2 separate regions of the Homo sapiens genome follow, and region 2 is linked to region 1. A link means that fine-mapping ties the variant in region 1 to the expression of a gene that starts in the linked region. Tissue or cell type: whole blood. Region 1 holds a variant in brackets; the other region holds the start of a gene. All regions are shown on one strand. Distances are between the middles of the regions.

The links. PIP is the estimated chance that this variant, and not a neighbour inherited with it, causes the effect.
Region 2: it holds the start of NOC2L, and the variant in region 1 is fine-mapped to the expression of NOC2L in whole blood (INTERVAL, PIP 0.94).

Annotation. Positions count from the first base shown.
Region 1 is chr1:807,239-815,686 of GRCh38, forward strand. LINC01409 (long intergenic non-protein coding RNA 1409) reads left to right here. Exons shown (of 6, transcript NR_187359.1): 5 at 1-85; 6 at 2,420-2,827. Among named protein-coding and RNA genes, the nearest start is that of FAM87B, 5.9 kb to the right of the region's middle. The variant AGGATTGCTGAC/A (reference allele first, on the strand shown) is at 4,210.
Region 2 is chr1:955,503-961,454 of GRCh38, forward strand. NOC2L (NOC2 like nucleolar associated transcriptional repressor) reads right to left here and starts at 3,754. Exons shown (of 19, transcript NM_015658.4): 1 at 3,713-3,754; 2 at 3,427-3,579; 3 at 1,597-1,771; 4 at 1,392-1,523; 5 at 593-713; 6 at 421-511. The coding sequence starts at 3,738. It overlaps KLHL17 (kelch like family member 17), which reads left to right and starts at 5,082. Exons shown (of 12, transcript NM_198317.3): 1 at 5,082-5,298; 2 at 5,791-5,952. The coding sequence starts at 5,192. RefSeq lists enhancers at 3,022-3,879, 3,538-3,647 and silencers at 3,758-4,017, 4,976-5,285, 5,306-5,635.

The sequences.
Region 1 (8,448 bases):
TGGACCTAGAACCACAGCATGTAACCTCGGAAGCAGTGAGACACCAGCCAGCATGGACAAGCAGCAGGCACTTGCTCTATACCAGGTGAGGGTGTGGAGACATGACGTGGTGCAGGGACACCAGCACCCAGTCCTAGTTCTGGTCCCTCTCAGCCTTGTTAGGTCCTGGTTCCTAAGATTCCAGGGAACATCCCCACAGCCTCACAATAAGATCCTCCTTTCCTGCATATGCTAGCTTGGATGGGATCCTCTGTTCTGTAATCAGTATGGCAACAGAGCAGATGAAATATTTAATGGTCTTTCATGAGCACTAAATTTTGTTTTTTACAAACTAGGTTAGATTCTGTCAAATAATCGTCTAATGGTGTATTCGAGTGTATATTAAGGATCTGATTCATTCTATACCCACTAACCATAACCAAACAGATTAAGTTTTCTTTCTCAGAATCTAATCCTTCAGTTTCTTGGAAGCTGGACTAGTTTCAGAGCATCTACAAACATTTCTGGAATATTTAACTTACCCTGAAATAACAGACGATAGACAGTAATTCCCTAAATTATTTTCCCCAGTTGTTGCAAAATAAAGCAAATGCAGAGTTTCTAGGACTATAAAAGGAACTCAACTTCCCGGATCCTAGTAAAGAAACAGGAAACAGCTTGAAGCTCTCTGGTTTGTTTTATGGCTCATGAAAAAGCTTTAGCCCAACTTGGCAAAAGAAAGGCAGGGAAAGAGTTCATATGGCTCTGCACAAACCCAACCCAATTACTAATTTCATGTTAGCCACTCTTTATGTGGAATGAGAGGGCTCACAGATGCCCTGCCCTCCAAAACACGCCACAGGGAGGACACATTCCCATCAGCATCAGGGGTTCATGCTAACACAGAGAAAATGCGTATGACTGCAGGAGTCCATGCTTGGTTTAAATAGCCCTGCTGTTGACTCAGATATGTACAGGTAGGCAGGAACCACACACTGTACACATATACCACATGCCACCACACACCATACATCCCACAGACCAATGTGTGCATAAATACATGCACAACCATACATACACACCATACATACAACACACATACACCATACACACAACACACACCAATGTGTGCACAAATACACAGCCACATACCACATGCACATGCAAGCACACACAATGGAGAATCACTGCCTCAAAAGCTCCTCATATGCTATTATCTGTCAGAATGTGAACCATAGATCTGATATTGCAAAAGAAATGTGTTTTATGCAACTTTATTAATACATTTATTTAATGTGACTCCATATTCAACAGAAACAATCCAAGATACTCTCTTATTTATAATAGAATACTTACTTCTTTTGTGCTTTCTTTATGGACATAGATCCATTTTTCATGATAAAAACCTAGAATAAAAATTACCTTTGTTTTTAAAATCTGGCAAATCATTTCAAAATGAAGATTTTAAAGGAATTTAAATAATTGGACATATTAACAAAATTATCTGACTTACTATATTGACAAGAAATGCTTTTACTTGGTTGAATGCAAACAGAATTGCTTTGTTTCTTAAATCAGTTTAAGATATGAACAATGATTTCAGACAGTACCAAGTCCTAGTAACTTAGAAGAAAATTAGTATTATTAATGACTGAAGCCATATGAAGACATAAATGATTATAAAATGCAATTACATTACTACATTCCTATGTACCCTAATAAAAAGTTCTATTCTTCTGTTGCTGTGTATAGTACTCCATAGAAACAAATTTTTCAGATAAATCTTAAAAGTTTCAAGAATCACACTAACTGTATTCTCCATGTGACCCTATCTTCTTCATAAAGTAGTCCCCCCGTATTCACAGTTTCATCTTCTACAGTTTCAATTACCCACAGTCAGCTTTGGTTTGAAAACATTAAGTGGAAAATTCCAGAAATAAACCATTCATAAGTTTTAAATTGTGTGCCATTCTGGGTGGTGTCATGAAATCTCACACCGTCCTGCTCTGTCCTGCCTGGGATGCAAATCCTCCCTTTGTCAAGCGAGTCCTACACTACCCGCCCCTTGGTCACTCAGTAGCCGTCTTGGTTATCGGATCACCTGTTGAGATATCACAGTGCTTGTGTTTAAAGAACCCTTATTGCACTTCATAATAGCCCCAAAGTGCAAGAGCAGTGATGGTGGCCATCTTGCTATAACTGTTTCATTTTATTATTATTCTCGTTAATCTCTTACTGCACCTAATTTATAAATTAAACTTTATTATAAGTGTGTATATACAGAAAAAAAAACATAGTATCCATAAGGTTTGGTAGTATCCACAGTTTCAGGCATCCACTGGAGGTCTATCCCCTGAGGTAAGGAAGCCTACTATACATTAACATGTGTCTTGGTAACTCACAGATATGCTGCATGATAGAACGCTATGCCCTCTCACAGATAGGTCCCACCTCCAGCCTTCCCCTGCTGCCATCTAACATCCTAAACTCCAGCTCTGAATGTCTGTCTCCTGCTCTGAATCTTCAGTGACTTCGAAACTCAAGTCAGGACACCTCTCAGTTTGGCCTCACTGCTCAAGATTGAGCTGAATTCATGACCATAATTCAAGCATTCAGATTCATGGGCTGTTTTGTGGGTTTTGCTATCTCTTATTTTGTTTTTGCACATCTTACCCACTGAAACGTTGGGCTGCAAAAAGTTTGATCACTAAATATGTAGGCAATGCTGGATACTGGGCTGTTATTTACATATTTGTATCACCTTTTATTTCATAAGATAGCATTGTCAGAGTAATTTAGTATTTCAACATAATCAACAAGTAAAATAAAATTAATGAGAATGATCTTACTTTGAGTATTTGTGTCATTTCTAAAATGGTCCTTTTTCCTTTTTTTGGATGCATATTCATGCTCTTCATTATTGACTATTTCTCCATCTTCACTATTTAAGATACTGAAATAAAGACATATTCTATTAAAATATTTTTTCAGGGAGATCTTCATTTGGCTTTTCTTTTGTAAAAGGATACAAATACTTCAAAGTGACAGACTGTGGGCTTGAAATCACAGGGGTAATGTCTAATACATTTTTGTTTCATTTTGAGAAATAAGATGTATCCTGGTTCTTTGAGAATATTGTACCAGAAAGTGCTGAACATGTTTTAGAATCTCTGAAGGGTCTTGATATGCTTATCCAAGGTAGTTTCAAACATCAAAATGGCTTATTAAAACAGAGATTTTTTTAAAAAACAACTATTAAAACTCCAGAAAAAAGATGGTAAGAACATGATGATACCCAATACTGACCAATGACTTGATGTGTCCCTTACCCCATGCTGAGTAACCACTCAACATTTCTGTTTACTCCCTATATGTTTAAGGGTTTAACTGAAGTTAATTATTACTGCACTGAACATGTTTTTATTAAGCACCAACCACATACACTGTTAACACATTTAACTGGAACCAGGTGAAGTGACATGTATATTTTTACTATTTAAATACGTTTAATTAAAAGCTGTTCTTTGTGAAACAAGAAAATCAAATCATAAGGCAATAACTAAACAATGGGAACACCTTTTACTTTTTAAAAAAATGTCTTCCTTACAGAAAAAAAAAACCTGTAAATAGTAATCCACATCCTCAAAACTAAAGATGTGTAAAATTTTTATTTTCCACACACTGATAACAGATTTTCAGTGTAAAGTGAGGAAGGAAGCTCTGTGGAGACAAGCTGGTTGGTGGAGGCATGCAAGAGTGGTGCTCAAATCCAAGGAACTAAAATTGCTTATTTGCCGGTCATCGTTCTTTGACAAGAAAATTGTATACAAGCCCCTTTCCACTCACCACTATTCACTTTTAGTAAAAAACAGCTGACTTTGCCAAATGAGTCACTTTCTCACTGTCAGAACAGACTTAAACAGCAGTGCCAACAGTTGTAAATCATCAAGACAAGCAAAGCACATTTGAAAAACATACAAACAACTGAACTTTTTGTGGCAGACATTATAACAGCAATTTATGGAAATGTGTTGATTTATGGAAATGTGTTTGTATTTTATATTTAGTCTTACACCAGTTTGTTATCATTGATTGAAATACTGAATGTAGAAGCTTTAGAATCTAAAAGGGTTTTCTAACGAAAATTACAAACATATCAAAGGAAAAGCACAAATACAATGTTCTCCAGAAATAGTGTCGCAGAAATAAAGACAGAATATGGAAGGAGAC[AGGATTGCTGAC/A]TAATCTCATATGTACAGGGAGAACGACACTCCATGCAGCTTAGCTCCAACATGTGAGCGTGGGACAGAAAAGCAAGGTGAACCTAAAGACATCCCATGGACACACTGAGCTGGAACCAACTCTGCCCATAGGTGGTGGGGCCAGGTTCAGATGCTTGCAGTAACCGCATCCTCCTGTGAATCTGGGTCTACATGGCTGTGGCTCCCTGGGGGCTACCCACACTGTGGATTCCACAGGTGGAGGTGACCTTCTTGGGCACTGCTGGGACACTTCCTGGGCCTGCCTGGGCAGTGGTAGGGCTCAGAGAACTTCAGCGTTAGGGCCTTGGGGAGTCTATGTCAGACTTGAGGACCAAGCCTGGGCTCACAAATGACAACTAGGCTACTATTTTTACAAAGTATTTTAAATGGGGAAAAAGCCATTATTTTTTGGTTGTGGGTTTTACACTGTCAGGTAAACAAAAATGTACAAGTAGAGAAGAAAGATGAATGCTTCTGAAATTTAAATTTGACACATTAAAATGTTAATAAAGGAGTATTTAATTTATAAATCTTTCTATTCTGCATGTGTCAACTACATTTCATAGCAATCAACTACATGTCATAGCAAACATGTTCTCTTTTTATAACCTTCAAGACAAACATCACCTACTCTGACTTAAAAACAAGGGAACCTGTCCAACAACTTGATTAAAAAATGTCAAACAACTTCAACAGACACTTCTCCAAAGAAGAGACACAGCAGCCAACAAGCCCATGAAAAGATGCTCCACATCACGAATTGTTAGGTAAATGCAAATTAACACTACAATGAGATACTACCTCACGCTCATTATGAGGCTACTGGCAAATTAAAAAAAAAAAAAGAAAGTTTAACAAGTATTGACATGGATGTGGGGAAACTGGATCCTTCGTGCAATGTTGGTGGAAATGGAGGATGGTATAGCTACTATAGGAAACAGTATGGAGGTTCTTCAAAAAATTAAACACAGAATTACCATATGATCCAGCAATTCCACTTCTGGGTATATATTCAAAAGAACTGAAAGCAGAGAATGAAAGATACTTGTATACCCACATTCATAGCAGTATTACTTGCAACAGATAAACATGGAAGCAACCCACATGTCCATCAGTGGATGAATAGATAAGCAAAATGTGGTGTACACTATACACAATATGGAATATTATTCAGTCTGAAAAAGGAAATGCTGACACATGCTACAATAGGGCTGAAACTTGAGGACGTTACGCTGAGATAAGACAGTCACAAAAGGACACATACTGTCTGATTTGACTTATGTGAGGTACTCAGAAAAGTCAAATCATACAGACAGAAAACAGAAAGCCAGTTACCAGGTCTGGGGGTGCTGGAGAATGAAAAGTTAGCGTTTAATGGGGACAGAGTTTCAGTGTGGGAAGATGTAAAAGTTCTAGAGAAGGATGGTGGTAATGGTTGCACAATAATGTGAATGTACTTAACACCACTGAACTGTACATTTAAAAATGGTTAGGAAGGCAATTTTATGTTATGTGTATTTTGCTGCAATTAAAGATAAACAGTGTGCAAGAGAGGAGAGGAAGTAGCAGCTTGTCTTGTTCATGCTGTCTGAGGTGCATGTCGGAGGGATGGGGTGGGGGCGGGAAGTGTTAAAAACAAAGAATAGAACGTTATACAACACAAGCGGAAAACACAGGGCACAAACGCACTTGTATAAAACACAGAGTTTCCATAAACTTAAAACATGTCTGAATGATGGAGCTAACAGCCCTTAACTCCCCACACCCAGGCTGCACCACAGCATATGTCACCCCCTTGCTTGCAAATGTGCCCAAAAGGCAATGACATTCCAAGTTTCCTCTGACAAGCCCAAGGACAGGGCATGAGTTTTCCAAGTTCCTTTCCATTCAAGAAAAGGAAGAGAAGAGAATAGAGAAGAATCAACAAAACAACTCCAAATAGAAGTAAACGAGAGCCAAGAACGGAACTATTTCTCATAATTAAACCCCAATTTCTATAAATTACAATCCTCATTCTAGTGATGACCTATAATAAGATTTGCATTTTCCTCTGATGGTATTTCCCTTAAGAGATGGATAACAAGGTCTTAATCTTCATCTCCCAGACCACTCTAGGGTTCTAAGCACAGGCTTTACAGAAATGTGCTGTTATGGGCCATCATCTTCAAATCATTTCCACACAAGTCTAGGAAAATAAGACAGGCTAGGATAAGCCTCCAGTTTTTAAAATTGCTAATCAAGGGCATCAGTTCTTAACTATATTGCTGTAAGATATGTCACAAAACTTTTGTTACCAGTAAGAAAAATGACCAACATTTGTGAATGATTTAATTTTTAATAATTATTAAAGTACTACACTACACATAATAAAAAATAATACATACTCATAAACTCAACTTCCCTGAGTTGCCAGTAGGAAGCAACCCTGCCGAGCCCTTGATTTTGGATTTCTGGCCTCCAGAATTGTGAGGACATACATTTCTGTGGTTTTAAGCCACCGAGTTTGTGGTTATGGAATCCCAGAAAATGAATAAAATTATCTATCTTTTCAAGCTACTTCAGTTTGATATTGATTATGAAAGGTACATATATGCTATCAAACAGAAGAGACTTTAGGGAGAAAAAATCTCGCATAAATGCAACAAGTTGCCATGACTCTAAGTGCCAAGGTCATATAACATGCAGACTGTGATAATTTCACCAAAACCAAAACAAAGTGGAACAAATCCTCAGACACAGTTGCTGATAATTCCCACCCTGGCCTCCTCTGACATTTCCTTTCGATCAATTTGGCTGCACCTCTTCTGTCAAGCAGGAGCTGGACGACATTTTGGTCAGCTCCTCCCCAGAAGGGAGCTACAATCTCTGCTCTAACAATCCCCAGTTGTTGTCTTAAGTCACACTGTGTTCATCAATGGCTACCTACTAAACTTAGCTTTTTATCTGTACATTTTCCAATCAGGTCGTATTATTTTCTCCTGGTAGGCAAATGTTTACGTTTATCCATTTTCCTGATATAAAGCTACTTCGTATCAGTGTGTTATTAGTCTCTAATTATAAGAAGATAATCCAGAAGAGAAAGTCCAGTCAATTTTATATAAGTTAAAAAAAAGATGTGAAACCTATTTTCAGAATTAACATTTCCTTCCTAAACATCTAACACGACACACTTACGGACTCTTAACACACCCTTATTACATGAAGGAGCAGCAGAGCAGAGGGCGGCAAGAGCACCAAGGCCAGGTGGAGCCACAGCCAATGTGGGCCCATCTCACTCCGCAGGGAGAAGCAACTGCACTGTGCACAGAGTGCAATCTGGCAGAAGGGAAACGCCGTCTTAAAGAGCTTCAGATGCAGCAACCTTGAGGAAGGGCTGTGCCAGAAAGTCCACCAGATGAGGCCGCAAACCTATCAAAGGGCATCAGACACTCTGTGCACAGGGTACACAAAACAATGCCTCCCACATTCTGTGACTTCCTGCGCGTGCCACTTGGACCACCACACTCCCTACCTGCACCATCTTACCTGGACAGACTAAATCTCAGCCACCTCATGACTAGGATATTAACATGGCTTCCAGTTCTATAAATTCCTCCCCCTTAAGAATGCATGTCTGTAAAATCAGAAATGATGAAAACTGGACTCGTGAGTGGCTTTGTAGTAGGGATTACAGGTCCAGAATAGAATAGGTTCAGTAACATATTTAAGATATTTAAGGGAAAAAATATAAGCCAAAGATTTAACATCTAAATAGTGACTATCAAGGGTAAAAGTCACACATATTTTTTATGAGTACACACAAACACAGGAAGTACGGTGACCAGGAGCTGAGGGATGACCCACTAAAGAATAAGCTCCGGAAACCAAAATGACTAGAGGCAGATGCAAAGGTGAGCTGCAGGTGGTCTGTATTTATCTGTGGAGCTGCTGGCACATGACGGTGATAAAAGTGCAGCATGCCATGGTTACCAGCTTGGACAATGCAGACAAAGAACAACCACCAGAGAAGTGGTAGGGGCGGGCAGAAGATGTGCAGGGGCCAACTGGGACTGGGGTGTCCATCAGCTAACTGCAGTATCAGGTACTATGGGGAGCCAACCAAAGAAACTAAGTGTTTGCTATAAAGGCATTAGGATAAAAGTGGAAAAAAAAGAGGAAGAAAGCCCTCTTAAATACCAAAAGGGTAAAAGCAAATAAAATAGAACAA
Region 2 (5,952 bases), 150 kb after region 1:
GTTCTCAGCATTGATGAGGCCCCTGTCTACAGACACACACAGCTCCAGGAAACAGGCCAGTCATAGTGCAGAGATCAAGGAGTATGGACAGGACTTACAAGTTCTTACAAAGGGAAATAGAGCAAGAACCCTAACCTGGGAAAATCTGAGAGCAAAGGCAGCTGCACACGCCACACCTTCTGAGACTCTGAGCAGACAACTTCCCTTTTCAGGAAGGAAAGAAGGTGGGGCCGCTCCAACTGGCCCCAAGTGCCCAGCCTCTCCCAACGGTCCCTCGTGCCCCGCTGCCTTCTCAGGGTCCCCAAGAAGACGCTGGCTCTGTTGCCATGTCTCTGTCCTAGCCACAAGGCCTCTGGCTTCTCCTGTGTGTGGTCCCGACCCACCTTCCACCCTACCCCCCTTCACCCCCTCCCCTCTTACCTGCTGCTATCCTTTGCCACCTTTCCAAACAGCAGCTTCTGGAGACAGCCAATGAGGTCTCTGATGCAGAAGGTAACCAGAGCATTGAATGCTGCAACGAAAAGGCCTGGATGTACTCACGGGACAGAGAACGCAACAGACAGCCTGGATGCCAGGCTCCCCCCAAGCTCACCAGCACTGTCCGTGACCTGGAATTTGTTGGCCTCAGCACTTTCCTGGTCCCCTCGGGTGGTGGCCACAGCTGCTCGGAACGCCTGTACCACTTCATGGAACAGCTTTGGAGTGAGGCGTTGCTGAAGGAGCAAGAGTACCAGGGGCGTCAGGGGAGCTGAGACTGCACTTGGCAGAGTGGAAACGGCAGCCCCAGAGAAAGGCACCCTCACCCTCACCCTCAGACATAGGGCAGAGGTTGGGGGGAGGCACAGAGCCCCATACTGATAACAAAAATGGAAACAAAGTCTAGAATTCTCTGGGAAGAGGAGGGAGTCTGGCTCAGGAGCCCCAGGAAAAGGACTGGGAGTTCCAGATCCTGGACTATGGCCACCTCCAGGTGGTATCTGGAGCTCTCCGTATCCTTGTCCCTGGAAAAAAACACTGTGAGAGGCTCAGAAGGACCCCAGCTCCACCAACCAACAAAGGCACAGTCCGTCCCACCCACAGCGGGACTGACTTTGGGGAGTGGGGCGCCAACAGAGCCCCTGGAATCTACCCAAAAGTGAACACACAGTCCTGGGGCAACCAAGCAAGCAGGAGGAGCAACGTGTTGTCACTTGCGCTGAAGAAGGCTCCAAGCGTCCCCTGCGTGGAGAACAGCCCCTCCCACCAGCACAGCCTCAGGCGCCTCAGGTGAGGCAAGGCCAGATCTCTGCCTGGGCACCCAGCTGCCCGCCCCTCGCTGCTGCTCACCTCAGGTGAGGCAAGGCCAGATTTCTGCCTGGGCACCCAGCTGCCCGCCCCTGGCTGCTGCTCACCTTTGCTGCCTGCTTCCATCTCTCAACCATGGCGACGGTCACAGGAACAGAATTCTTCTTCCCCTTCAGCCCTCTGGGGACTCTGTCCCCATCTTCTCCTTCCTCCGCTCCATCCTCCTCCTCACTGGCTTCCTGCACAGAAAGGCTGAGCTGAAGGAGAGTGTAGAGACAAGTGCCCCCCTTCTGGTTTGGCCCACGCCCTCACCTCCAGCACATCTGGCAGGGAGTGGAACGGCCCCTCTTCCTCCTCAGAGCTGTCCGAGTCGCTGAAGTTTAGCAGGCTCTGGTCATTCTCCTGCAGGAACTTGTAGAACTCGGGGTCTCTGTCCTTCAGCCGAGAGAGCTGGTCTTTGTGCTCAGAGGCACGGCCTTTACGCCGGCTGAGGAGGCAGAAGTCAGCGACCCCAGTGGGAAGTGGAAGTAGAGGGGGCGGGGAGTGGCCTACAGGGTCAGTCTACTCCCTTCACAAGGGTTACCAACTAGCAAGACAGGATTGCCAGGAGGTACGTTTTTGGCAGACTCACGTCTCCTACCCAACAACCTCTACAACATACCCTCAAACACACTACACAGGCCCCCCAGCCGCGGTCTTCCCTGGACTTGCTGTGCCTGCGCCCTGCGCTACACAGGCCCCCAGCCGCGGTCTTCCCTGGACTTGCTGTGCCTGTGCCCTGCGCTACTTTTGCCTGATGGTGGCTTCACCCTTCCAGAGGCTCAGACTAAAGGCAAATCTCTGTCTCTAATACCCAGCACGCAACTTGTCATCAGATCTCATCAGCAACACCTTCAAAACCGTTCGTGCCTCCTCTCAAACCACCACATAGTTCAATTCTCAGTTAACCTAAAGGTCTCTCTGTTTCCACCCTTGTCACCTACAAGGCACTCCACCGCTCAAACCCAGAAGTAACTCCCTGTTTTACGAGGCAATCTTATGACGGTCTACGGCACCTGGCTCTTCATCACCCTTCTGGGCTCATCTACCCCTATTCACCCCCTCACTCCTGCCGTAGCCACGTTTACCTCTGTACTCTCCCCAAATGCTCCCACTGCAAGGCTTTTGCTGTTTTCTGCTGCCTGAAATCCTAAGACACGTTTCCCCTACTGTCTGTGTGGCCTCCTTGTTCGAGGTCTTTATTCAGACGTCATCTTCTCAAACAACCACCTCCGCTTTTTTTTTTTTTTTTTTTTCTCCTGAGGCGGAATCTCACTCTGTCGCCCAGGCTGGAGTGCAGTGGCGCAATCTCCACTCACCGCAACCTCCGCCTCCCGGGTTCAAGCGATTCTCCTGCCTCAGCCTCCCGAGTAGCTGGGACGACAGGTGTGTGTCACCACGCCAGGCTAATTTTTGTATCTTTTGATTTCTTTCTTTTTCTTTTTGAGATGGAGTCTCACTCTCTCACCCAGGCTGGAATGCAATGGTGCCATCTCGGCTCACTGCAACCTCCGCCTCCCAAGTTCAAGCGATTCTCCTGCCTCAGCCTCCCGAGTAGTTGGGATTACAGGTGCCCACCACGCCCGGCTAATTTTTATATTTTTAGTAGAGACATGATTTTTCCGTGTTGGTCAGGCTGGTCTCGAATTCCTGACCTCAGGTAATCTGCCCGCCTCGGCCTCCCAAAGTGCTGGCATTACAGGCGTGAGCCACCGAGCACAGCCTCCGCTCCTTCTAACAGAGCAACTCGGCTCCCCTGCAACTCTCTCTTCAGCCCCTCTGTCCTTCCTTTCCCTCCCCAGCACTTATCTCTCTTCTACCGAACTGCAGGCGGTGATTTCACCCAAGAACGTGAGAGTTCTCCTAGATCGGGAAGAGATTTTTGCACAACTCACCAACATACGCTCCCTGCCTAGGACAGAGTTTGGCACGGAACAGGAGCTCAGTAAACATCGGATGAAAGAGTAAGTTAAGCTGAAAGGACTGGGGGGCAGAGGTCGGCGATCCTTAGGCCTTGGCCCTGAGACCCCAGGCGAGGTCAGCAACCCAACCGGGGTGGGACAGGACGAGCAAGAGGTTCTGCTCACGCATGTCCCCACTAACCTGGCCGAGGGGCTCCCGCCCGGCTTATCCGGACTCCGGGCAGCCTCGCGTGCTTCCCGTGTCTCCGCTTGTGGAGAATTTTCGGACTCGGATTCGGACTCGGAGTCAAAGCCCGAAGCTAGGAACTCGTCCACCGTCAGCTCCGCCAGGCGCCTGCGGGTCACGCAGGAGTCACAGCTGCCCGCACGCCCAGCTCGCCCCAGCCCCGCTGAGAGGAGCAAGAAAAGCCCCCTTGGATACAGACACCCACCGGGAGGCCAAATCGGCCCTCGGACCCGCGGCTTACCTCTTGCGGCTCCCCGCAGCTGCCATGACACCAACCCGAAGCGTGCACCCCACTTCCGGCCCCAGAATGCCGCGCGGCTGCGCACTTCCGCCGCCCAGGCCCCGCCCCTTTCCCCGCCCCGCCGCGCCACGCCCAGCCGAGTGGCTCTATGGTTCTCCGACCGCAACGCCGGCGGCCTCAGGGCGGGAGGGCGCGTTCGCGTGCTCGGTGCGGGCAGCCCCGGTGGGGCCCAGATGCGCCTCCCGCTCGGCGCCCGGCTCCGTAGGACGCGGTGACGCCGGTGTCCGCCCCGGGGAAGACCGGGAGTCCCGCCGCGCCCGCAGCCCACCCGGCGCTCCGAAGGCACGCGCCTGCGAGGACGCCAGACTGCAACGGCGGGGCTCCTATGCAAAGAGCTCCCACAAATCAACAATAAAAAGCAGGGAGTCCAGTGGAAAACGCGAGGGGCAGTGGGAACCGCACTGATGTCGCCAGCTCGACAAAAGACGGGCGACCCGAGGGCCAGGCTGGCTTCGCCTCCGATCCGCGGAGACCGGGCCAGCGCCACGAACACCACGCAGGGCGCTCCCCGTCCATGGCCCTCTGGGTGCCGACCGCGGCTCTTCCCGGGGACGCCGCACGGGACGAAGACGGTGGGGAGGCCGGCGCCTTCCTTCCCGCTACCAGCCTGACACCCGGGCCCCCGGGCCTGGACAGCCAGACCCCGCGACAAGGGCGCCGCGGGGCGCAGGCACGGCTCCCCCAGCCCTGGCGCTGAGGGGGCGCGTGAGGCGAACACGGGCGGATTGGCCTCGGGGTCCCATTCGACTTCTTGGTGCCGCGGGGCCCCGGGGCTCCCCGGAGGAGAGCAAGTTAGGGGGTCGGGGGAGCGGGGATGGCTTCCGGGGGAGGAGGAGGGCGAGGCCTGGGGGGCTCCTCGGAGGAGGAAGAGGGCGAGGCTTAGGGGGGCTCCTTGGAGGAGGAGGAGGGCGAGGCTTAGGAGGGCTCTTCGGAGAAACAGGAGGGCGAGGCCTGTGGGGGGCTTCCCGGGGAAGAAGGAAGGCGAGACCTAGGGGGGCTTCCCGGAGGAGGAGGAGGAGGAGGGCTAGGCCGGGGGCTTCCCAGAGGAGGAGGATGGCGGGGCCTGGGGGGCTTCTCGGAGAAGGAAGATGGCGAGGCCTAGGGGGGCTTCTCGGAGGAGGAGGAGGGCGAGGCCTGGTGGGGGGCTTCCCGGAGGAGGAGGATGGCGGGGTCTGGGGGTGCTTCTCGGAGGAGGAGGCGGACCCGGGGCGCAGCGCTGGAAGAATCCGCGTCCAACGTCTAGTCCCCGAAGCCTCTCGGGAGGCGGGGCGGGCGGCGCCGAGAAACAGCGGCTGCGGGCGGGAGCGGCGGGAGTGAGCGACACAGAGCGGGCCGCCACCGCCGAGCAGCCCTCCGGCAGTCTCCGCGTCCGTTAAGCCCGCGGGTCCTCCGCGAATCGGCGGTGGGTCCGGCAGCCGAATGCAGCCCCGCAGCGAGCGCCCGGCCGGCAGGACGCAGAGCCCGGAGCACGGCAGCCCGGGGCCCGGGCCCGAGGCGCCGCCGCCTCCACCGCCGCAGCCGCCGGCGTGAGTGGGCGGGGGTCGGGGCGCGGGGGGCGGCCTCGGGACCTGCGCGGCCCCCGCCCTCGCGTCCGCTCGCAGAAGGGGCGGGGGCCGCTTCCGAGGGCCGGGGGAGGTCGGGACTCAGGTGCGGAGCGGGGTCGGCCCGGAGTAGGTTCCCCACCCGCGCCCCGCGCGCCCAGGACGCGACTCCCGCTGCGGTCCCGAGAGGGCGGCTAGGGACGCGGAGGAGCTGAGCTCGTGGGGGCGCCGGGAAGCGGGGCCGGACGCGGGGCTCTGTTCGCGGCTCTGACTACGCCCCAGGGGAGCAGGGGCGCAGCGGAGGCCTGGACACGGCGCGCTCCGGGGCGGGGGTCCTTGGCGGAGGTCAGGCGAGGGCTGCCGGCGCCCCCGTCGCACCAGGGGCTGGGTCCCCGCGGGCTGCCCGGGCCCCCCAGCGGCTCCAGGGCGGGCGGGCGGCTCCAGCGGGGCGAAGCCTGACCCGCCCGCCTCCTGCAGCCCCGAGGCAGAGCGCACGCGGCCCCGGCAGGCTCGGCCCGCAGCCCCCATGGAGGGAGCCGTGCAGCTGCTGAGCCGCGAGGGCCACAGCGTGGCCCACAACTCCAAGCGGCACTACCACGATGCCTTCGTGGCCATGAGCCGCATGCGCCAGCGCGGCCT